Regions from separate parts of the Homo sapiens genome. Here regions 2, 3, 4 and 5 are each linked to region 1. The links come from fine-mapping of genetic effects on gene expression. A gene starts in region 1. Each other region holds a variant in brackets. All regions are shown on one strand. Distances are between the middles of the regions.

What was found.
Region 2: its variant is fine-mapped to the expression of HDAC9 in lung (TOPMed, PIP 0.94).
Region 3: its variant is fine-mapped to the expression of HDAC9 in fibroblasts (GTEx, PIP above 0.99).
Region 4: its variant is fine-mapped to the expression of HDAC9 in cerebellum (GTEx, PIP above 0.99).
Region 5: its variant is fine-mapped to the expression of HDAC9 in unexposed skin (GTEx, PIP 0.97).

The regions. Positions count from the first base shown.
Region 1 is chr7:18,493,075-18,498,185 of GRCh38, reverse strand. It overlaps HDAC9 (histone deacetylase 9), which reads right to left and starts at 2,437. Exons shown (of 26, transcript NM_178425.4): 1 at 2,163-2,437; 2 at 1,862-1,924. The coding sequence starts at 1,883. RefSeq lists an enhancer at 2,659-2,708.
Region 2 is chr7:18,309,510-18,314,620 of GRCh38, reverse strand. It overlaps a transcript of HDAC9 not described here. Among named protein-coding and RNA genes, the nearest start is that of HDAC9, 180 kb to the left of the region's middle. The variant C/T (reference allele first, on the strand shown) is at 2,721.
Region 3 is chr7:18,989,367-18,994,477 of GRCh38, reverse strand. The region is part of intron 25 of HDAC9 (histone deacetylase 9); the gene reads right to left. Among named protein-coding and RNA genes, the nearest start is that of HDAC9-AS1, 90 kb to the right of the region's middle. RefSeq lists an enhancer at 3,995-4,496. The variant T/C (reference allele first, on the strand shown) is at 3,062.
Region 4 is chr7:18,562,743-18,567,853 of GRCh38, reverse strand. The region is part of intron 2 of HDAC9 (histone deacetylase 9); the gene reads right to left. Among named protein-coding and RNA genes, the nearest start is that of HDAC9, 70 kb to the right of the region's middle. The variant C/T (reference allele first, on the strand shown) is at 2,677.
Region 5 is chr7:18,896,990-18,902,100 of GRCh38, reverse strand. All of the region lies in intron 22 of HDAC9 (histone deacetylase 9), which reads right to left. It overlaps HDAC9-AS1 (HDAC9 antisense RNA 1), which reads left to right and starts at 109. Exons shown (of 3, transcript XR_927081.3): 1 at 109-162. The variant G/T (reference allele first, on the strand shown) is at 2,430.

The DNA.
Region 1 (5,111 bases):
ATGCTTCACATTTTAAAAATAAATAGAACTTAGTGATTATGTATTTATACCAGACAGGTTTTGGGAGTTGATGTTAACCTACATCACTTTTCATTTAATAGCTAGCTGCTGCTTAAATGTTGCTTCTTGTAGAACTGGCCAAAGCATGGACAGCCTGAAGCACTTCCCTGTCTGAAAATCTTGTTGCTTTGTACACAAACCATTAAATGCTAGGAAAATGACAATCTCTACTGAAATGGGTGTAAAGCTGTATGTGATTATCAAAGATGTGGAGAAAAAAGCAAAGCTTGCAAACACCTGTAGCCAGCCTTAGCTTCAGCAGACACTTGCTACTTGGAAGGCATGTATGTTTCTACCATATGAAAAAAAATATCAAACTTGTAACACAGAAGTGAGGACTAAAAGGATAAAGCATAGTGCTGAAAAGATTTCTAAAATAGTTATTTTCAAAGGGTTCATCCATATTTTAAAAAATAAAATGCTAAGTTAAATGACCAGTCCCATTAGAGACATACCTGTTAAACCCTCCCGGAGCCCTTGTCAGCTTTGCAGCTATAAGAATAAACTGTACTGAAATTCTGGTAGGTTTGCTTTTGTTAAGCAGGCACTATTCATTAACATAATTCCTGTCACTTAAGTGTATAAATACCAAATTATGCAAAATTGATATTTTATTCTGATTCCATGAAAAGATTGGGTCAACAGAAGGATCTTAAAATTAACATAACTAACCAAGGTTTAAAGAAAACTAGCTTTAAACATAGATCCCCATATGGGAAGGTGTATTAACACCAAAACAGACATCATGCCAACCTGTGGAATATTTCTTTCACACCTAGCTCTACAAAGTAAACACTGCTTTATGTGGCATTCTTATCATGGAAATCTAGGCGGTGATCTATAATTACGATTAAGCCCACATGGGAAGTGGGATCTAAGTGAGAACTTTAAGCCAATTTTAGGTTGAAACATTCAGAAGAGGACAGAAACAAAGAGTTCCCAAAGCTTTAGGAAATAGCCATAGGAAATAAATATGAAAGGCAATAATTACACGTTAAGTGATACTGCCTGGAGAGTATGTTCATTTAGTAAGTATAAATTGACAAGGCTGACAAGCTCAATCTCCCACCAGCTCATCTCCTTGAGAAACTAGAAATTAGAATCTGTTCCTATTATCCTTTAAAACGCTGCACCTGCTTTTAACACATTTACATGTGTGTTATGCCATCACATCTGCCTGACAATGCTAGACTTCCCACATGTTTTTGAAGAAAATTAAAATAAGCATCTGCTAATAACAATTTTATTTCATCCTAAACAGTTTCATTTGGGGCTGATGAGAAAAAGCCACATAATGGAAAAAAGAAAACTACCTTTATAACTCTGTGGCAAACACATTTTAGAAGGTAGGTCTATAAATAGATGTGCTTCTGTAGGCACAGAGTAAATATAAAATCGTCAGGCTAGCGGGGCTGCAGTTTAAACTGAAGCCCCAATATGAACTTACCTGATTTTTAAAGTCCTATTAGAATAGGCTTACAATCAGTACACAGCTCCTTTTTCTAGTTGCATAGTAAAGGCAAAACACCCCCAACTACATTTTACTTATCTCAGTCTCATCTTTCATCAGAAGCAATAGTTTGCAATTTCATTCAGAAGCTGCTGTCCCTAAGCAGACTGAATATGCACAGAAACAGTAATGGAAGGGATCTAAGTTAAACCCTACAGACGCACCAAGAAAATAGCAACATCAACACGAAAAAGCAGCAATTTCCTTAAGAGAGGTGCTTTTCTTAGCTGCATTTCCCAAGCCAGCCCCCTTTCAAACCTAAAACGTCTCAGTTATGAAAGAGGATCTTACCTGAGCTGATCATACTGTGCATTCTTTGCTGAGCCAAGAGCTGCTCTCGTCCAGCCACCCCATCTGAGGAAAAACAGGAGTCACTCTCGTAAATTGTCTGCAGCATATTCCAGTCACTCTTACTTCAGCTACATGAAACATTCATCACTGCTCAGTGCACCGGCCCCAGGAGCTACCCTCGCTGGTTCTCCCTCCTCCCTGAGGAGAAGCAGCAGAGGATCAACTTCGACAATGATTTCCTTTCTGCTCAAATGGGCATCCACTTTTAAAAAGACCTGGACACTTTTCCCATGTTACCAACCTGTGTGCAAAGCAGAAAGGACAGAGTGGATGCTATAGCTCTCTGGAGTTTAGGTTATCCCGGAAACTACAAGCAGGTGGGAAATAGGAACGTGCTTCGGGGTTATTTCTTTGTCAGAATACGTAGAAAATTATTAAGTCTACCCACGAGAAAAAGAAACCAATTAAACCTGGCTTAGAGTTCTTCAGGCTGCTAGGGTTTTGTTGCAAAAACCCTCAGTCCTGCAAGTGGCTCCAGCCGGTGCCCTTCTCCTATCTGTGTCTGTGCCTCTCTTCCCCCTTTCTCAGTCTCTCTCAGCTCAAGTTGGCTAAAGCGAGTGATAATCCATTTGCATATGAATCAACAACAGCATGGCCCACAGGCACAGAAATAGAACAATGGTCGGCCTGAGCCAAAAATAGGTCAAGCATGGCCGAGTGATTGGAGCCTGCATTAATGCATTTAAAAATACCCCAGCAAACCCAGCTGTCCAGCCTCTATCTTTCCAACCATAATTCTCTATCGCAGGGCCTTAAAACCAATTAACTCTTTCCTCTCTCGAAGCTTGCTTTACACACTGTGTTTCCATACTGGCGATTCGCTTCCAAAGAAAGGAAGGCAAGAAAAAAAATTAAGAATCATAATTCTAAGAGGGCAAATGCACATACATTTCATTTCATTTTATTTTTGTAGTATGTGTTTTTGGAAGAGAGAGGAGAGAAGTACAGAGCTCTGTATTGGTTCTAAAATAATACTGGAAGCTTTTGCTCATAATGTGGTTTCTGCCTCACCCACGCACAGCAATCCTGGTGTTCTATTTTTGTTGCCTGTTTCTCAGGCTACACTGCAGTTGGCTGTAGCACTAGAAGCTTTTCTGCCTTCTAGTTTCAGGACTAACAGGAGATTTAGCAGAGGTACTTTTGGAAAACAAGCACACCCCAGAATAAAATTTTTATGAAGGACAGGCTTGATTTTTTACTTGCTATTTATGCAAGACAATTGTCCATTTCACAAATCCTATTGTATCTTAGTACCACCTATGAATTTTATCGCATCCATCCAGTTAGTACTATATCTATAAACAAAACAAAACACAAAACACAAAACCGTGGCTTATATGTGAAAATTTCCCCTCAGCCTCTCAGGCTAAATTCAATTTACTTGCAAAAGGAAAAGAAAGTAGTCTGATTTCTTATGGATACAGAATTTCTGAGCATATGCACCTGTTGATGGATAAATCATATATATGGTTAGTACCCAACTATGACTGTTCTGCATTCAGCTATACATTGGTTGCCCGAAATATGGACCTCCTAACTTTTCTGTAGAAATAGCATTTATGATAGTCAATAGATTACCAGACACATTGTGGCGTTCAGCTATACAGTACAGTAGATAGTATCAGAGTTTTATAGTCTCTGGTGCTACATTTATATCCTTTCTATATAAGAGATAAATTTTACATTCCAAAGAGGGATCCTAGCATCTTGTCACTTCCAAGAGCAAACCCAAAAGTGATAATCTACTAGTCATGGAAGCTCTTTTCTCTTTTCTAAACTAAATCAGCGAGGAAAATGTAATTCTAAGGCATCAGAAGCAACAGGGGAAAGAGAGGAAAAAGCAGATTATTTCAAAATTCCCAGAACAATCCGATGGAAGAGGGATCTTGGTCAACTCCAGAGTATGAAGTCAGAGGGGGCAAACAAGGGGACACAGAGTTTTGATGAAAGGGAAGAAATAAGCACGTTAAATCATTCATCAAATAGGCCACTGCTGAATTCCTCTTCTTTCACAGATTAATTTCTACTGAATACTCTACTTCTTGAAAAATTGTATTTGGATATGTAAGTTACAATTTTTAAAAAATATATATTCCAAACTGCGTTTGACTTAAGCTACACAACAAAATCTTATGTTCCTGTCAGTGGAAAAAACAAAAAGCAATTATCTGATTCCATCTGATATTACAAATAAACTTTTGATTACAAAATTTATGTGTAAAATTCAAAGGATAGAAACAGTGTGGACCTAATAATTTTCCTTAAGGATGATGTACTGAAGTAGTAACTATCATCACATTTTAGACCTGGGAGGAAATTTAGAGATAGTCAATTGTAGTTTTCAAACTCTGTCTCATGACATAAGGTACCTGCGAGTTGCCTAAGTTTCCTCAAAAAAGGTTCTCCGTGGAACCAGGGGAGCTCCACTTTTACCTGTTTCCATTTGGAGATTTGAGATTTCTTTTGAAGAACTTTTTTTTTTTTTATTCTACAAAACATTTATGTAAAGAACATTTTTTAAATTGCGGTATATTTGACAAATCAAGATTCTTTATATTTCAGGTGTACAATTTGATGATTTGATACACCTATACCTTGTGAAATAATTACCATAATCAAGCTACAAATCTATCATCTCAGCTAGTTACCATTTTTTTTGTGGTGAGATCAGAACAAGAACTTCTTATATTAAGAAAAACAATCATTGAAATTCACTCATGAGGAAACGAAGGAGGCTTGATTACAAAAGGACTCACTATTGGAGTCAGGCTTTAAAGACAGTAGCTTAAGGAAATACAGGTAATTAATAACTAACCATATAGGTCTAGCATTTATATTATCCAGTCTCACCATCTTGTCCCTTACCAAAATGATACAAATCATTATCTGAGATATTCCAAATAAAATTTAATATGATCTACTGATGAAAAATGGACCCACTGTCTGTTTCAGAGTGATTTTTAACAGAATACAAAAATTTATGATGAATATACAAAAGAGATAACAAAATCACCATATTGATACAATATGCCTATGCATCTTTTGTCTTTTTAAGTTTAAATTACACCTTCAAACAACAATTGATAAAAAAAGATCTCTCAGCTTTTATAATAAAAAATAAAAAATAGAATAAAACTCCAGAAGACTGAGTTAGTAATTATCCTAGTTCTTAAAGGATCCAGGAAAGGGC
Region 2 (5,111 bases), 180 kb after region 1:
CGTATGACACTGAACATATAAGAACAATGAAGGTTATAGCATCCAGTCCTCCTAAAACTCTTCTAGATTTTCTTGCCAATGCACCAACAGAGATAAAAGGAAAGTTATTACCTGAAATAAAACCTCACTCCAATTTACTGCCACATTTCCAGGCATCTCATATCAAACGTAACTATTAATAGCAGGATTCTCACACTGCAAGTCCAGTCTAATTTATAATTTATCTCCCCGACTTTTCCTGTTTTTCTGTCTTGGGATTTTTCAGCCTGAAAGAAACACCATCCTGTTTTATAGGTTTGGTTTAGAAACAGTGACTGCAGATCCTCTGCAAATGGGACACTATCCCTTTGGCTGGGCTATGATCTGGAGATAAGGCAGGCTTATTACTATCTCTAGAATACAATGGCCTCCTCACCCACATATCCCTCCCTTCTGTCTCACATTGCTAACAGCATAGCTATGAGTTTCTATAGAACTTGTCACCAGGGAACTGTCCAACATACTTTGGCAAAGGAATTATTTTGCTGCCTAAGGAAAGAGGATAGGAGGATAGTAAAAAGAATAATCTCTTGCTTGGAAGCTGGCCATCTAATTAAACTCACAAGAGTATTGATTCTGTCCACTTAGATTAACTTTAATTTTATGTATAACCAAATTACAGATTCAACTTAACCAATGTAGATCCCTGAAATCCCTCCAAAAATATATCAAATGTCTCTAAGTGAAATTTCCCAAGTGAACATGATTGCAGTCCAACTTGATTTATTGTTTATTTTCTATTTTAACTTAAAATCTTAGCACAAAAGGATAAATTGAGGCAGTGTATTAAGTAGAATGCAGCCCACATGATTTAACAAAGGAAGAAGAAACAGTTTTATATTCATTAAGGCTATGTTATTATTCCAGTGGTTTATAAAATATTCAAGAGTAGCATTTTAAATTAAATTGTTAGTGTGTGCAATAATTTTCACCTAACACATCACACATTATAAAAGCATTTGCATATATTAAAATCCAAATATTCCAAAGTTCACACATGGTGACAAGGATATGAAATCCTGAATTCCGAGCTTGACTAACCAGTATCTGACTAGTGTGTTCCACATCTTTACTAAATGCTGAGCAAGAGAAAATGAACTAAGTATTTGGATCTGAGCCTTAATAATTCTCAGTGTCAGGTCATAAATCTCCTGACAGGAAAATATTAAATTCTGAAATCACTTCTGAAAGAATTTATAGCATTATTTTCTTCAGATTATTTGCTACATAGCACCAATTTTGTTATCTCTGAGTTACTGTGGATATAATTGAATCAGAAAAATGCAGAATGGACCAGGTCACTTATCTATACATTTCTACCAAGTTTCCACTTGATTGCTTTACTGGTCTATTTTTCATATAATTATCAATCACTAATATTGAATACTTTTTCCCTGAAATCAGCTAAAATATTCTTAGAATTCATGGGTGACCGAAAACTCAGGTGATGAAGAAATGTTTTCTTCGTAAAGCTGAACAAACTGTTCCCAGAATTGTCTTGAAAGGATAGGACAAAGGAATAGGTAACCATGCATTTAAGAAAACAGGTGCCTTATGTCTAATTTTCCAAATCTCTACGAATTATAGGAAGACAAATCTGAAAAGTTTTTAAGGGCTATGGAGAATAAAGTAGCTAGAACTTTCAGAGAAACAAAAATATTTCTCCTTCTAGAAATATACCCTCAAAGTCCCTAATAAACCCATTAAACTGTTAGCAAATTGCATTTCTTAAATCTTTTAAAGGGGGCCACTTTAATTTTCCAAGAGAAGATTGTCTAGGGCAAGATACAAAGATTTCTTACCATGATTACTGTTCACAAGCTAAAAATAGCCATCTAAGAAAACTGAGATCAAGCAACTTCCTGACACAAACCTGACCTAATTCAACAATTTGATCTTTATCAGTCCCTGCTGAAGACCCAGAGAGTTGTGAAGCTTCTGCTAAGAATAAAAGACCATATAGAGGACTCAGAACCCTAGGTGTAATTTAAATTTAAAATAATCAGGCTTGCAAGAGATTATAAATTACCTAATGTCTTCTAACAGAGGATCTGTTAAATTAATTTTGGAAAACCCACACAATGAACTACTATGTAGCAGTGAAAAAGGAGGCACAAGGCACTTCCACATGTGGAACAAAATCTGAAACATAAAATAAGAGGAATAAATTCAAGGCACAGAAAATGTGTAGTAATATTTTAATGTTTACTACAGATACTCACACAGACACACACAGCATAGCATTCTGGAAGGCTACACAAGAAAGAGACAACAGTGATTGTTTCTAGGAAAGAGAGAGAAAAGAGAGACAACCAAGGAAAAGATGGAGAAATAGATTTTTCACTGTATGGCTCTCCTATCTTTGCATTTTGTGCCTGCTCATCTGACACATATTTTTAAATCACATTTAAAAGCACCAGGGAAAGAATATGTCTGTGTTCAAAAATATGCAGCCATGGTAGCAGTCCTGCACCTCTAACTGTATGCCCTAGAAGGAGTCAGGACAATAGGCCCTACAATCACTTTGTCCTCTCCTCATTCACCAGGAAGGTCCACATAATCTGGGTACACATCTTTTCCACCTACTGTTCTTTAGATTGTTTAAAATAAATTTCCCGTGGTAGTGCCAAGAGGGTGGTTCAGTGGCAAAAGCCATTTCCCCCCACAGTAATCTCCATCAG[C/T]CTCTTTACAAATACTTCCTAAAACAAACACACATCCTAAATAAAAGGATGCCTTCAAATGGAAAAGTAGCTCTAACGCCAGTCTACAGCCAGTCTCCATTCCTTCATCTCTAAATCCTTCTATTTAGAAAATTTGAGGCTGTCACTATATTGTCCCCATATTTGGGAGAAAAACATTCCCCATTTGGTTCATCCCTCCTTGACAGTAGTAGAATATGAAGGAGCTGACTAGGTAAGACAGAATATAGTACTATGAGCGAGGGCTTTGGAGACAGACTACCTAAGTTTGAACTGCGGATTTGCCACTCATTATGTAAATTTGGGCAACTAACCTAACCTCTCTGTGCCTATTTCCTCATCTGTAAAATATAAATAATAATATTATCTATCTGATAGCACAATTTTTTATTCTGCAGGCTGTGACTATTAATGTGAGTAATGAAATCAATTTTCTGAATCTCAACTGGACTTTTAAAACTGAAATTAAACATAATAAAATGGAAGGGAATAAAAACTCACAAGTTATTAGATATAATAAAAGTTGATTCATTATTTCTTTTCCTAATCATATACAATATATACATAAAGGAAGTATATATGTACCAAATCTCAATTTTTTCATTGGGGGTTATGTTCAAAAGGTTAAAGGCTTTTGTCATAAGTAGGCTGTGTGAATAAAAAGTATTAATAAATATAAAATACTTAGAACACTGTTTGGTACTGTGTAAGACCTCTAAATGTTAACTGCAGAATCCTTGTTATAAAAACAGTAACCTATTTTTGTCATCATCATCATCATCATCATCACCTCTCTCCAGAACTGAGAGGTAAACAAATAATATCAATATAAAATTGATGTGAGCAAAAAGTTACATTAACATAAAGATCTTATTACAATTTAATTAATGATATTAAAAATCTATATAAATAACCATCAATAATATATAACTTTTTTTAGAAATAGAAATTTGAAAGAGATAATAGAGTAGATTTGTATAACATGGTTCAGAAAGACACTGAATTTAGCGGCCCTCAGCAATTTAGTAAGAGAGTGTGTGTGTGTGTGTGTGTGTGTGTGTGTGTGTGTGTGTAATGGATTTGTACAAGTTGATAAAAATCTGTAGAAAATGTCAACTTCTCTTTCCCCTGATTCTATAGCTGTAAGTTAACAATGCTGTATGATGTCTATGTCACACCTGCAGGTATATATCAAAGGTGGAGGCCTGAATTGGTATCATGGACAATTCAATCACTGGACAAGGGATTGTTGGGATATTCCCAACTCTAAATGTTAACTTGTGCACAGTGCGAGTATCAGGAGAAGTTAAACGTGAGTGTATGCATAATTTTTTGTTATGCCTCTGATTGTAATTAGAAAAATACAACTGGCATTTCTGATTTGTACATGTGTTCCTTAGGAGACTGGTTAACATGAGGCTGTCACTGACACACAGGCTAACTCTTACTTTACTGACCAAATTCAGTTTCAGGACACACATATTGCTAAAATGATGTGAACACAGCCAGAGATGCTGTTATTCTCTAAAGATTTTCTGGGCCATGGTATATCGTCCTCCAAAGAAATATCTATCCCAGTGTTTTTCAAAACCGTGTAGTCACAGAGCCCAACATAAAACTCTGTGATACGTAAAACAGAAAATCAAAGTTCCCATAGTTGAAATGGACATGGGGAAGCCTGGGAACCATTCCTGATCATTCCCCCCAACCCCACCCCCCCACCACAGTCCTCCCTCTTTCCAATCTGGCAGGCCTTGGGATAGCTTGAAAGTCTCTACACTATCTGGGCACTTATCAAGCTAAAGTGTGCATCTGAATGATCAGGAACACGAGTTAAAAATCTAGATGGCTGGGCTGCACCAGTGTCTGAACCAGAAAGCCTAGAATTTGCATTTCTAATGGTCCAGGAATCACACTTTGAGGACCACTGCCCTACCACATTGCTTCAACACATTTGTTTAATATCACAAACAAGGACCACCTGGATTTCATCCTTTGCAACTAATGTGAAATATTTAAATATTTTTTATTATAATAGCATATTTTTTAAAACTCTAGATATTGAAGTAGGTAAATTTGAGCTTTTTTTTTCATCCAAGTCAGTTTTAAAATCTAGTGATTTAGTTTTATTAATTGAGAACAATCTCATCACGGCATGAGAAGGCTCTGATAACATGCTACCACAACAAATGTTCCCGAAAGTTCTTTAGGTTCGGTTTGCTTATAGAACAATAAATGTTCCCTGTTTGGAAACAGTCCCCAAATGTTCCCTCTTGTTTAAACTGTGTGAATTCTTAACATACTCAGCACACATACTGTAATCTATGACTGAATAGAGGCCTTTCTCTCCTCAGGGAGAATGGAAGGATGTTA
Region 3 (5,111 bases), 500 kb before region 1:
GTTGTGAGAGAGAGTTTAGAGGTGGTACATAAGATAAATGAGTCATACTTCAGAAAAGTCTTTTCTATCAAAAATAATCAGCATTCAAAGAAGAAAGATTTTAAATTAAGGAAGACATTTAAGTTTTGAAACTAATTCATACATAAATATATAGCCTTATTTACATCTGAGAATATGTGAATAATACAGTTATAGAACTCAAACTGGATATTCTAATGGAGACCGATTTTTCCAATTTCTAACTCAAGCTGCAGCAGGATAATCTTTTCCCCCGAATCCAGGATTCAGTGTGGCTGGAATTCCAGAGACAGTCACGTGTGGGAAATGTCTCAGAGGTCACAGATGTAAGGAATCCACATGTCTCTGTGGTGGAGGATCTGTGAATTCTCCACATGTCCAACCTAGGCTTAAAGGATGTGAGTAGGCTGTCTACACTGCAACCCACTCACTGCCAAAAATTAAGCCTCTTTGGTTGAAACAGGGCAACTTGCAGGTACAATAGAAAGCTTTCCATCAGATGCTTCTCTGCCTTTTCCTCTCTTTGAAATCATTTTATATTGACCTCTTTTTTTTGGAATAAACCACTTATAGCTGCCCACCTTCTATTGAACCATCTACACATATGCATAATTAACCAATTCTCTCTCTCGCTCTTTCATTTATTTATGTATTTTTGAGACAGGGTCTCACTCTGTTGCCCAGGCTGGAGTGCAGTGGCATAGTCACAGCTAACTGCAGCCTCAACCTCCCGGGCTCAAGCCATTCTCCTACCTCAGTATCCCGAATAGCTGAGACTACAGGCATGTGCCACCATGCTGGGCTAATTAAAAAAAAAATAATTATAGATGGGGTCTTGCTATGTTGCCCAGGCTGGTTTTGAACTCCTGGGCTCAAGAGATCCTCCTGCTTTAGCCTTCCAAAATGCTGGGACTACAGGGGTACGCCACCATGTCTAGCCTCAATTCTCCCCAGCGTCTTGCAGCATAGAAGTGTTAGTAGCATAGTAAGTTGGAAAATATCCTGGATTTCAAGGTAGATGTTCTGGGTTCAAGTCCCAGCTGTTTTACTTTCGAAAATTTGACTTTGAATCAGTCAGTCAGTGTCTCTAGATTGTCAATTTTATCTTTAAAATAGAAATAATAATCCCTTACTTGCCCTCACGGTTATGAGAATTGAAACGAGTTAATGTAAGAAAACATGATTTATACACTGTGAAGTGTGAAACAATTGTAAAATAACTGGATTATTTATATCTGCCATTGGGACAATTTATAGTATCTCTCTTCTCATAGCCCTAGCTCTCAGTAGAGGTGGCATTATCTTCATATAATCAAAAAATATGTCTACATTTTTAAAAAAGATGATTTCTTTATGGAACATTTAGAAAGATATCTGGTGAGTGATGACCCTTTAATGGCTGTGTTTGGAGGAATGAGAAGCAGTGCTCTGAAAATCTGGGGGCTTCCCACTTCAGCCATCCCTAGATACATGTCTACTTCACCTTGATTAACAAAGACACAAGCTGGGGGAAGGAAAGACATGCAGGGAGCTGAAGACAGTAAGTTCGGAGATAACTATAAAATCAACCCAGCAAAGATAAATTTTAGTATAATGGTTTAACGAATTGAAAGACATAAGCTTCCCTCCAGCAAGTCAATGTCACAGTGAACACTGATAGTTTTCTGTCATTGATAATCAAAGATTTCATATCCTAAAGAAGGATCAATTCACTCCAACAGCCATAAGATAATTTACAAAAGTAAAAAAAAAAGGAAGTAATTTCACTTGAGACAAGATGTAGTATTAAATTAAATTCTTGTATTCTCTCTTAAATCTTATTTCTTGTGGTTTTAAAAATAGCATTTGTTTAATTTATATTAACACTGTTACGTAGTAAAACATTTTCTCATTTTACTGATTTAATTTAATTCTTATTTCTTACTTCTACTCCTCTTCCTCCTGAAAGGCAAGCAATACAATGCCTGTTACATTATTTTGTTTGCAAGTGTTCTTTAAAGCTGTGTATTATTGTTTTGTGGGTATATATTTTTATTTTATGTAAATTTTAACTTTATACACATGTGCATAATTTTCTCACTCAGTACTGTATTTACTAGATCTGTCATGCACTTATATTTATCTAGTTTGAAGCTGGTAACTTCTACGTGGCATCTCCATACAGTGCATCCACCACATTTTAACTATTCATTCTCCCAATAATGGACACTGGGCTTGACTCCAACTCTCTATTCACCATGAATAAAGCTGTAGTGAACTTCCTAGTATACGTACTCTAAAGACTTATGCTGAGAATGTCTTTGGTATACATTCCCAAGAGCAAAATTACCAGGTCATATATTTTGTGTATATAAAATGGTACTAAATTAGTATGCAGCATGGCTGCCATAGTTTATCTTCCCAAAGCAGTGAGGCTCTAAAGCCCCACATCTCCACCCATGCTAGCAATACTTAGTTTACTCATATTTTTCATTGATTCTAGAAAAAGTTGCTGACTGTGTACTGTGTGCCCTGGTTCTGTTCTAGGCACTAGGAACATAGCAATGAACAAAATAGACAAACATCCCTGCTCTCATAGAACTCACATTCTCCATTGACCTTATATTCTAATTGAATGTTTACCATCTAATATATGTAAAACAATACCTTCTTGTTATTCAAATTTGCATTTATTTGATAACTAATCAGTTTGGACAAAGATTTGAATTTTAGTAAGCCACAAAAGCTAAAGTAAAAGACAGAGAATCAAATGACTTTCATAAGTATGTGTCATAAGTAAGTCTGTTTATCTCACTGATGACTTCTTTTTTTTTTTTTTCTTTTGAGACGGAGTCTCTCACTGTCACCCAGGCTGGAGTGCAATGGCACCATCTCCGCTCACTGCAAGCTCCGCCTCCTGAGTTAACACCATTCTCCTGCTTCAGCCTCCTGAGCAGCTGGGACTACAGGTGCCTGCCACCACACCTGGCTAATTTTTTGTATTTTTAGTAGAGACAGGGTTTCACCGTGTTAGCCAGGATGGTCTTGATCTGACCTCGTGATC[T/C]GCCCGCCTCGGCCTCCCAAAGCACTGGGATTACAGGCATGAGCCACTGTGCCCAGCCTGATGACTTCTTTATCTTTCCAGTATTCACAAACTGATTTTATATATAACTAATTCATATATTAGTTCGTATTTTGTGAATTTTGTTTTATGTTCTTTCATTTCCTCATTCATTTTTCTTTTTCATCTCCCCCCTCCAATGTTATACCATTTTGTATACATACTAGACATCCCATAAATACTTTTTGAAATGTTTATATACATATGTTGGAATGATTTCAGTGCTCTTTACAAGTATGATAATTTAAATCAAGAACAAAATAAGAATTTGCAACAAAAGAATAAAGATCGAGAGGAGCCAAGATGGCCGAATAGGAACAGCTCCGGTCTACAGCTCCCAGCATGGGCAACGCAGAAGACGGGTGATTTCTGCATTTCCATCTGAGGTACCGGGTTCATCTCACTAGGGAGTGCCAGACAGTGGGCGCAGGTCAGTGGGTGCGCGCTCCATGCGCGAGCCCAAGCAGGGCGAGACATTGCCTCACTTGGGAAGCACAAGGGGCCAGGGAGTTCTCTTTCCTAGTCAAAGGGGTGACAGACGGCACCTGGAAAATCAGGTCACTCCCACCCAAATACTGCGCTTTTCCTACGGGCTTAAAAAACGGCGCACCAGGAGATTATATCCCGCACATGGCTCGGAGGGTCCTACGCCCACAGAATCTCGCTGACTGCTAGCTCAGCAGTCTGAGATCAAACTGCAAGGCGGCAGCCAGGCTGGGGGAGGGGCGCCCGCCATTGCCCAGCCTTGCTTAGGTAAACAAAGCAGCCTGGAAGCTCAAACTGGGTGGAGCCCACCACAGCTCAAGGAGGCCTGCCTGCCTCTATAGGCTCCACCTCTGGGGGCAGGGCACAGACAAACAAAAAGACAGCAGTAACCTCTGCAGACTTAAATGTCCCTGTCTGACAGCATTGAAGAGAGCAGTGGCTCTCCCAGCACGCAGCTGGAGATCTGAAAACGGGCAGACTGCCTCCTCAAGTGGGTCCCTGACCCCTGACCCACGAGCAGCCTAACTGGGAGGCACCCCTCAGCAGGGGCACACTGACACCTCACATGGCCAGGTACTCCAACAGACCTGCAGCTGAGGGTCCTGTCTGTCTGTCCTAACAAACAGAAAGGACATCCACACCAGAAACCCATCTGTACATCACCATCATCAAAGACCAAAAGTAGATAAAACCACAAAGATGGGGAAAAAACAGAGCAGAAAAACTGGAAACTCTAAAACGCAGAGTGCCTCTCCTCCTCCAAAGGAACTCAGTTCCTCACCAGCAATGGAACAAAGCTGGACGGAGAATGACTTTGATGAGCTGAGAGAAGAAGGCTTCAGACGATCAAATTACTCTGAGCTACGGGAGGACATTCAAACGAAAGGCAAAGAAGTTGAAAACTTTGAAAAAAATTTAGAAGAATGTATAACTAGAATAACCAACACAGAGAAGTGCTTAAAGGAGCTGATGGAGCTGAAAACCAAGGCTCAAGAACTACGTGAAGAATGCAGAAGCCTCAGGAGCCGATGCGATCAACTGGAAGAAAGGGTATCAGCAATGGAAGATGAAATCAATGAAATGAAGCGAGAAGGGAAGTTTAGAGAAAAAAGCATAAGAAGAAATGAGCAAAGCCTCCAAGAAATATGGGACTATGTGAAAAGACCAAATCTACGTCTGATTGGTGTACCTGAAAGTGACAGGGAGAATGGAATCAAGTTGGAAAACACTCTGCAGGATATTATCCAGGAGAACTTCCCCAATCTAGCAAGGCAGGCCAACATTCAGATTCAGGAAATACAGAGAACGCCACAAAGATACTCCTCAAGAAGAGCAACTCCAAGACACATAATTGTCAGATTCACCAAAGTTGAAATGAAGGAAAAAATGTTAAGGGCAGCCAGAGAGAAAGGTCGGGTTACCCTCAAAGGGAAGCCCATCAGACTAAGAGCGGATCTCTTGGCAGAAACTCTACAAGCCAGAAGACAGTGGGGGTCAATATTAAAGA
Region 4 (5,111 bases), 70 kb before region 1:
AAACCTTGAGGTTTTAAAGAAACATCTTATACACCTCAAAGCTGCAATAATAATACTACAAGTTTGGCTATCACCCTAGTAATAGATCTGTAGTCAAACCACTACAGAAATTTTGTGCTTCATGCAAGATAGTTCTGGTAGTTAGGTATTGTTTAAAAACTATGGGAAAAATATTTACCCAAATGTTGTTCCAGATATTAATGCAAATTTAAATTTATATAACCCAAAATCATAGGAAATACATTGCTAATCATAGAGCTTAGCAAAGGCATTCTGAATCAAATGGCTTCTGCTTATTTTCCACAAAATTTATAATATAACTTAGATTAGACCAGTAGAATATTCAGTAGCTAGAGAACACATTATACAAAATTTTAAGTTCAAGCTTTTAAAAAAATGCTTTAAATGAATTGCTTGGAATTTATAAATCTTGAAGCTAAAAAGGTAAGTATTATCATGGTTAAACAAAAGAAATGAGAGAACAACAAACAGTGCAATTTGTCTCTATGCTAAGGTAAATGCTCTTGTATAGGGGTTGTTATTCAGGTTTCCTCGCCTTGCCCAGTTAGGGGGGAGAAGTATAGCCATAGAACCCCATGCGATTCCTTAGTTCAACATAGAAATTCAACCCGCCACATCAGGCCTGTCTTGGTTAGATTTACGTAGGCGGTTCACTTGGGCTTATTCCCCTCGAGATAAATTTGGCATGCTGCAGGACATACTCAAAGCCAAGGTTCAAAAACTACTGGGCATGTCTGGAGAGCAGGTGGGGCTGGCACTGCAGATGTCTATTTGCATGAATGACTAAGGCACCACCTAAGAAAAACTCATCTTTAGCAAAGAGGAAGCTAGGCCTTGCGACACACTTGACCTGATAACCTCAGGACCTGAGGGAAGGTTTGATTCTGAACATACGGTATGGTACATCCTTCCTCTGTCTTCTCTCACCTCCAGGTCCTAGAGTACAAACCTACTACATCCACTACACTCCTCTGAAAATGCTTTACCAAACTCGTTGGTAACAAACCTTTGTCATCTTGCTTGATTCTCACAAGCATGGGATACAGTTGTTTTAAAGAACAAGTAATGAATAAATTAACATCTCTATCAGTCTACTCTCAATTGCTTGCTAATGCCCAATACCTTGTCAATGTAAAGAAACAGAATTTGGCAGAAAGAACACTGCGTCTCCAGTTCTAGTCTTGATTAGTCCACGTCTATGGATCCTGGGTTTCTCATGTATAAAACAAATAAAACCAGGGAGGTAAAACAGTGATTCCCAAGGCTTCCTCTACTGCCAAAGCTATTCCCTCCCCACCTAAAAATTGTGTGTATGTGTGTGTGATTTACTTTTTTAGTCTTTATCAGAAAGTATATCTCATGCAAAAGGCAACTGCTGTTGGCCTTCATTGACTTCTTTGGGTAAATCAATAACCACCATACATAATAGATTCTGATGTAAAGAAAGGGAGAGGTACTAGGAAGCAAGCGGGATCCCTACCAGATAAGAAATGATAGAGAATTGAAAGCAGGAACTCTGAAGAAAGCTTTATCTAATTAAAAACTACCCTAGGACAGGCTTTGCCTGATATATAAAATTCAGTTGTGGTCAAAATTGTTTTATTCCTTGATTGTGGTATTTGGAAACCTCTCCTCTAACTTTCCATAATAAATAGCAAAATATTACTTTCCATTTTCTCTCTCAATGAAAACACCACTTTCTACAATAGTTGCTTCTTAAGGGGGTGGAATGCACAAAAATATCTACTTTTTGTAATGTTACTTAGCAAAACAAGAATAGACATTTTCCTCACTTAAAAAGTTTTTACTATACAGTAATATAATACCCAGTTTGAGAAAAATCAGAAATATTATTCTGATCCTATGAAATGTGATGGTTATTCAACAGCTCCCACATTGCTTAATAAAGAAACAGAAAATTGCCCAGAATTAGAAACCACTAAGCCAATTAAAGTTGCCAGGGTAAAACTGAAAAAAAAAAAAATTATCCACATTATAAATATCTTAGAATACTTTTCTTTCTTTCTTTCTTTTTTTGGTTAACATAAAAAGATTTCATTACTTGCAAAGGCTTATATAAATAAAATTAAAACAACATCACCAATTTGCTTTTATTATTTCAGTGCATTTAGATATTTCAAAATGCACCTTTGTTTTTTGGCTGAAAGAATTCCCCACCCTTTTTTTTCTTTTTTTCTACAGAAGTACCCTACACTGTCCAAAATATGTAGTCCTGTTCAACAGCTAAAGAACTCTTCTCCTCCTCCCTCTCTAATTTGGCTTCAAGTCAAGGCTGTTTTTCTCATTCCAACTGTTTTGGACATATGCTGGCCCAACTAACAATGGTAAACACAGCAAGCTGTCTCTGATATGATGCTGATTAAGTAATCTTGTGAGCAAGTAGAGTTTGGATATTAAGATGCTGAGGAAAAAATTACTCACAGAAATTCTCTACCCTTTGAAAAATATTTGGATTCTTGATTTTACATTATATGATAAACAAACCATGGGATATTTTTTAAAAAATACATTTATTTGGCTGAGCACAGTGGCTCACGCCTGTAATCCCAACACTTTGGGAGGCTGAGGCGGGCGGACCACCTGAGGTTGGCAGTTTGAGATCAGCCTGACCAACGTGGAGAAACCCCGTCTGTA[C/T]TAAAAATACAAAATTAGCTGGGTGTGGTGGCGCATGGCTGTAATCCAAGCTACTCGGAAGGCCAAGGCAGGAGAATCCCTTGAACCCGGGAGGCAGAGGTTGCGGTGAGCCAAATTGTGCCACTGCACTCCAGCCTGGGCAACAAGAGTGAAACTCCGCCTCAAAATAATAAATAAATAAATAAATAAATAAATAAATAAATAAATAAATAAATAAAATACATTTATTTGATGCTGGCTTAGGCATTTGAAATATGAAAGAGCCTAAGATGTGGTCATTACATTCATGGATTTTCCAGTTTAAAATAAGGGCAAGTAGAGGAAACAGTGGAAGCCCAAAGATGAGCTTAAAATAACATTCTAAAGACATTGCTTCATCTTACAGAAAAATAAAAAGGTATAAAATTGAAATTTTGAGGACTTTGAATAGTGTTTCAATAAAATCTAATGGTAAAATGTTAATACAAAAGTAGTCTCTTAACGAAAAGGAATAGGTATAGAGGCCCAATGTCAATCATAAGCATGTGGTACAAGATACTTGGAAGAAATATAAACATTATAGTGCATATTATTCCTATTTAGAATAAAAAAATAAAAATGGACATCTTCTATCCTGTTTTTGAATATTAGAATTGCGCACTTATTTTTCATTTAGCTTAGACTGCTATATACCAGCTTCCTCTCAGTATGCAAATAGAATAGATAAAACCAAACTGTAAAATAAAGCCAGGAATACAAATTGTCTTTTAAAAAATACTTGGAAGCTTAATAGAAATAAGCAAGCCCCAAAAAAAGGGATTACCTCACACTTGATAAAACTGTAATTTCTCATTTATTTATCAATAAAGCTCTTACTGGGTTAGTACTACCTATAATTTGACAGACATAAAATCAGGACAGATTAATTAATTTATAGCCATGGACAATTTTTTTTTTTCAATTGTATGGTTGCAACTGTACTGTTTCCTTGTTTCTAAACTATGCAGGCCTTGAACATAGAAAGATGAGGAGAATAGTCATTGTTGTCAAAAAATTTACAATCTGGCCGAGTGCGGTGGCTCACACCTGTAATCCCAGCACTTTGGGAGGCCGGGGCGGGCGGATCATGAGGTCAGGAGCTCGAGACCATCCTGGCCAACATGGTGAAATCCTGTCTCTACTAAAAATACAAACAATTAGCTGGGCGTGGTGGCACACACCTGTAGTCCCAGCTATTTTGGAGGCTAAGGCAGGAGAATTGCTTGAACCTAGGACAGCAGGGTTGCAGTCAGCCAAGATTGTGGCATTGCACTCCAGCCTGGAGACACAGCAAGAATCCGTCTCAAAAAAAAAAAAAAAAGCAGCAAATCAACATGGTACATGTATACCTATGTAACAAACCTGCATGTTGTGCACATGTACCCTAGAACTTAAAGTATAATAAAAAAAAATAATCTAAGTTCATGGGGGGGGTTGGGTGGTTCTGAGGGAATTGATGGCAAGAAAACATACCAAAGATATAGAGTATGATATGGGCAAATACTGATGATTTGAATAGATAACTAGAGATGGTGACAGGTGCCATGTTTTGAGACTATTCTCTATAACGAATATTGTGCTAAACACCTTAAATACATTGTGTAATCACAGAAACAGGAAAAATTAATTCTGCCTGTAGGGGTTATAAGAAAATTTTCTGAGTAAAAGATATTAGGGGATGGAAAATGGGGAAATAACTAAAATAAGCTAACAATAACAACAAAAGAAGATAACAAAAACATAACCATTGAATAACTGGAGCTTATATATTTTTGGAGGAGGCTTATATATTTTATATTTCAAATGCTTAACACAGGATGGAAAAAAAAAGATGACTTTGAGAGACATTTTCAAGGTATAATAGCAGGATTTGAAGACCAATTGTATAAAACAAGTAGAAATCCGTTTTTAAAAATCACTGATATACTGAGATTATAATAGCACTATTACGGCCACATTGAACTTTTTGAAATTAATTTTAAAGTCAGTGGGCAACATCATTTGAGAGCAAAAATGGGAGCACATAAATGGAATAAACCTTTCTTAGCCATCACAAAAGTTTTCTGTCAAAATATATCATAATATATTTATGAAATCTTGGAAAATTTGATCAGTAAATACAACCAAAATAAATAACTAATCAATAAAACATGACCTACATCAAGAAGAACAAAATTGTTGGGCATAAATTTAACAAAAGTGCAAACCTTGTACATCGAAATTACAACACTGTATGGAAGGAAATTAAAGGAGATCTAAACGAATGAAAAACATTTCATTTTCATAGGTTAAATATTTAATATTATTAAGATAGCAATATGACCCAAATTCATCCACAAATTCCATGAAATCCCTACCAAAATTCCATCTTTTTTCCTGGCAATTGACATACTAATCTTAAAGTTAATATGGAAATG
Region 5 (5,111 bases), 400 kb before region 1:
GGCTTCAGCCTCCAGCAACAGTTGCCTGTGAGGGTAGCTTTATTGCATAGCACAATGCAGTTGTGACTGAAGCTGTTTCCAAACACTTTAGGGCAATTTCATGTGTAACTTTTCCTCTGCCACTTTACAGGGTTCCTGAAAGGGTAGAAGAAAATACAGTAGGTAAGGCCAGACAAAACTTGTGACTAAATTGAATCTGGCATAAAATAATAATATGACATACTCTTGGGACAAATAAAAAAGAAAGCTGCTTGTTAAATGCAGTAGATTAGAAATGTATATATGCAGATGTGAACATTTAAAAGATTAAAAATACTGGACTGATATATGGAAACAACTTTTATGATTAAATAAGATAAGTTATGAAAACAATCCTATTGGATGTTCAGGAAATGTTTAAAACGAACCAAGTGGGTTGAGATATAGTTGGTTCATGGCCATATTTATATGTGGTAAAATACCCATACTATACAATGAGGTTAAGTCTAGCAATTATGTGGTTAATTTGGTCACTCTCCATAATCATAGAGATTCATTTGTTGGGGGTGGGATCCCCTACAGGCATTGGATTCTCCCAGTTGACTGGTAATAATAACAAACAGGCTTACCAGAAACAAACAGTTGTAAAGTCTCCACTATATTACGTGTTCAATTGATGCAGTTGAAATATCAAACCTAGCTTTTCTTTTCCCTAATGTCAGCAATGCAGACAAATAACAGGCGTTTGGAAAAAAGAGGATTTTTTTTAACTCTGAGATATTTTAATTCTGTCCCAGCAGAGAGTCAAAGAATCACAGGAACAAAATATATTATTCATACAATTTTATATATATATATATGTATATGTATATATGTGTGTGTGTGTGTGTGTGTGTGTGTATATATATATATATGTATATATAGTATATATACAGAGAGAGAAAGAGAGTCTGATCTGTTGCAGTATTGGAGCCTTGGGAATAAAGTATCTTTTTGGGAATCTCTGTAGTATATTATTAGAAGATCATGATTAATGTCACAGGACTTAAGCAATCTTTGAAAAGAAGTCAAAATGTGCCACAAAAATTCACTTGATTGTGCCAGTGGGAATATTTCCTAACATAGTCCCAAACTTCAAAAACAGTATAAAGCATGCAAATGGAGTAAGGGGCGGGGTCCATCCATTTCTTCCCAAGTATATTTAATCTATTTAACAGAAAAATGTTGGGAAAGTTGTGGCTCTTATTAGCATGAGAAAAGGGCATCCAGTGGTATCTATACACTAGACTGTTCACATGTTGTTTTTCCCAGGGTAGGGGTGGTATTCGTACTTCTTATTGCTTTATGTCACCAGTCTGTAACCCAGATTGTAACTTTAAGATGTTATCTTCTGGCTGCTCAGATAAACAGCCCATTATGTTTTTATGGTGGGCAGTTCTGAATCCTCAGGGAATTAGAAGATATTGGCTAAAGTTTGTGGCTCCCTGCTAGACTATCAAGGGGTCCATGGGATCTTGTCCGGACTATGACTTTAAGCAAACACCTCTCTCATAATGGTATTCTCACACTGCCTTCTTGGCCATGGACTTCAAAAGCTGATTGCAGGGAGGGCCAGAAAGGCAATAACCCTTAATATAGCAGGACTAGCCTAGAGGGGACAGACAGGGCAAAGGTAAGGCGTCTCTGAGGTTGGCATTTGTGTGTTTAGCCACATGGGGTGATTAAGGGCCATCTGTTCTTCAGTGGGCTAAATCATCGTTTTCACAGCATCCCAGGATCAAGTACATTTCATGCTTAGAAAGCATGAAGAAGCACCCTAGAGTTTTCCCAGTCCTAATGAGACATATTTTAAATTTATTTATCTTTGATTTCTAAATAATGATAGTATGCATAGGTGCATTAGTGTGTGTGCACCTGTGTGCGCATGTATAGATTTGAGTTGTTTTTGTAGACTTGAAATTAAGAGTATCACAATTAAAGCAAAATTCTTGTATGTATTCATACATCTTTTGGACAGGGAAAAAAACCTCTGGAATGTTATGCTGATAGAAGTCTTTGTTTTGTTTTGAATATATCGTGTGACCAGTTCATTTTTTTTTAAATTAGAGAAACTCCTTGTTTGAAATCCATGTACAGAGAAATCTATCATCTTTCTGTGTGTGTATTATCAAGTCTTTCAAACAACACTTTATTTCAGAAAATGCACATTATCAATTTGTGAGAATAGAAATTTGAATTTTTCTGATAGTATTTCCACACTGAAGATAATTTTTTTATATTACAGGTCACAGATAGTATGAAGCTTGTTAAAAGTTAGATGTGATTAGTGTGGATATCCATCTTTATCCATACTACTAGGGCTATATAACCCTAGTTATATAACAAATTACACTGATAATTTGTTAAATAACAAATTACATTGAATAGTTCAAGGCTTATAGATTTTTAAA[G/T]ACTGTATCATTAACTCACTGTATTCACATTATTTATAAGGTAAGCTAACCACCATGTCTTCCAAAGAAATAATTAATATACTATTAATTTTAACTGGACTAAACCAAATGATTAAAATCTGTAGATTCTGAATCTATAAAATTTTTGAAGTACGATCTATTTAATTGTTACATAGTTGAAACTTACTATTGGCAATCGACAGTCTTCCATCATGTCAACATCTTTAACATGATCTAGCCTAGGTTGTCAGATTCTTCATCAATCTCAGAAAAGATAATAAAAAAGAAGACATCAAGTTCATGTTTGGCTATAGGGAGAGCAAGTAACTTTCAGGGAAAAAAAAAATTATACCAGTACATCAGGTGAGTAAACTCAGTCCTACTAATTACTAGTTACCACATAGGAGCTCACTTCAAATCTAAGCACTACAAGAAAAGTGTCCTCTATTGACAAGACACCCAAACAGCATTTTTATTAATAGGGACGACAGTCTAGCTGTCATCCAAAAGTTATGTTTTCAATCAGCCAAACCATAGCAAATATATCCTAACATTAAAACATGTTTTTTCATTAATAACAGTTTGCTTAGTGGAGATTCCAAAACCTAAGCCATACTTTGGAAACTTTCCCTATGCAATAACTTCCTAACTCAGCAATCTTCATACTTTTTGGTAGCATAAGCGTAACAGAATTTGAAAAACTATATACCTTCTTTCGTCTTTTAAGGGGATGTCTAATATTTTTATGAGTTAGTATTTCTTAAAGGATATACTTTTAAGCATATTGTGTAAGTGATTTAAAAACATTTCCTCAAAATATTGGACCTCTGGATTTAGCTGATTCAATTTATGGAAAATGTCCACTATGCAATCAGATAGACAATACCAGTCTTCCTTGTCACACCAATCAACTAAATCAGACTCACTTATAAAAAAAAAGTCTTATCCTTTTTTTCCATTCAAATGTTGTAAATGTGAATTCCAACATAAGCAGACTGATGATCAATGGATAGATAAGTAAGTAGATATATATACAGTAAACACCCTTTCTCTGAGTACATACCCTTTCTCTGAGTTTGTAACTTAGATAAAATGAGATACTGCCTCTCTCAATATTTCTTTATAAAACTCACAGTATTTTGTGGTCAAAGGAAACGCCTTCAGAAATAATATGTTCTCTTAATTACTCTCCTTCACATACCTCAAACACTATTAACATGAGGCCACTCATTATTTTTCTGAAAATATAACATGCTTTTAGAATTTTTAAAATATTTATGTAAAAAATTTTTAGCTATTTGTTCCATTTGGCTGTGTACCACTCATCTTTTTATGCCATATACAAGTTACCTTGTCAGTGAGGTCTTTACTCAACCAGGTAATCTGATGTACTTCTTCATCTATGTTCCCATAGAATATTATTTTACAAATATATTGTCATAATTGTGTATGTGTCTGTCTTAATAGACTATGAATGCTTCCCCAATGTTAAAAACTCAATAAATGTTTTAAAACAAAACAAATAAATCAATGAATGATTCAATCATTAAGAAATAATTCCACCAAGAAATGTCTAAAATGGTGCTTTACAAGGTCAGTTGCCATGTATGACTTTATGGTCCAGAGGAGATGATTAAAGAAATGTGTGAAATATATTTTACTATTCATGCATATACAAAAATGTATTTGTTCCTGAAGAGATTGACTTATAGGGAACATTTTAAAAGTGACAGTAAAAAACTGTGTCTAGAAAGATCACACATGGACACGATATTTAAAAGCATTGGATCCATGCATGGTTCCCTGGTGGCAAAGACCCTTAGCTGAAATGGAGGGATTTTTTTTTTTTTTTTTAAGTAACCATATTTTAAAAGAGCAATTAGATAGAGAAAACATAACATTTGTTTTATAACCACTTTTAAAACTTCATTATACTCATTCTACACATATAATGAGTAGCAAATAAAATCTTTAAGTAGACTCCAATTCTTAAAATATTATGTAGAGAATTATAGCCCATTATTCACCCTTTTAGGTTGCCAAATCAAGCAGTTTAGCAAGATCTTCTCCAGTAAAACATGGTTGAATTGATATGACCTACAAATATGATTATTAGATATTCTGCAGAAAAAGGTAGCAGAGCAAACAGGAAGGATCAGAAACCTCCGCATAGCATTCTTTAAACAATTTTTAGTAAATTGTAACACTGCATTTTAGGAGTCACATTATTTTTATTTATTATCTTATAGCTATATTCTAAGAAAACAAAGGAAAAAGTTATAAAGTCCTAGAGTTTTGACAAATCATAAATTCTTCCAAGTCTTTGTTTAGATTTTCGAGAATTATTCAATAAGCGATCATTTGAAAGGCTTTATTACCTTTTCTTCAAAAGTCATCTTTAAATCAGATGTACACATTTCTTAACCACACTCTGTTACAAATAATTATGTAGAAAAATGTCAGTAAAGCTATTTCTGAAAAATTCAGTCAGACCAGATTTTTTCAGCCATTATTTTCCCCAAATTTAATTAAATTTTTTTTCTATTTTTAAAATTTATTATATTCAGGAAATTCAAGGAAGATATAGGTTGTGGTTTTAAACTAGAAAAAATGAGCATATGCATACTCTAGACTTAATGAATACATATTGCTAAATCCTTTACAATGTCATTGTATGCAGAA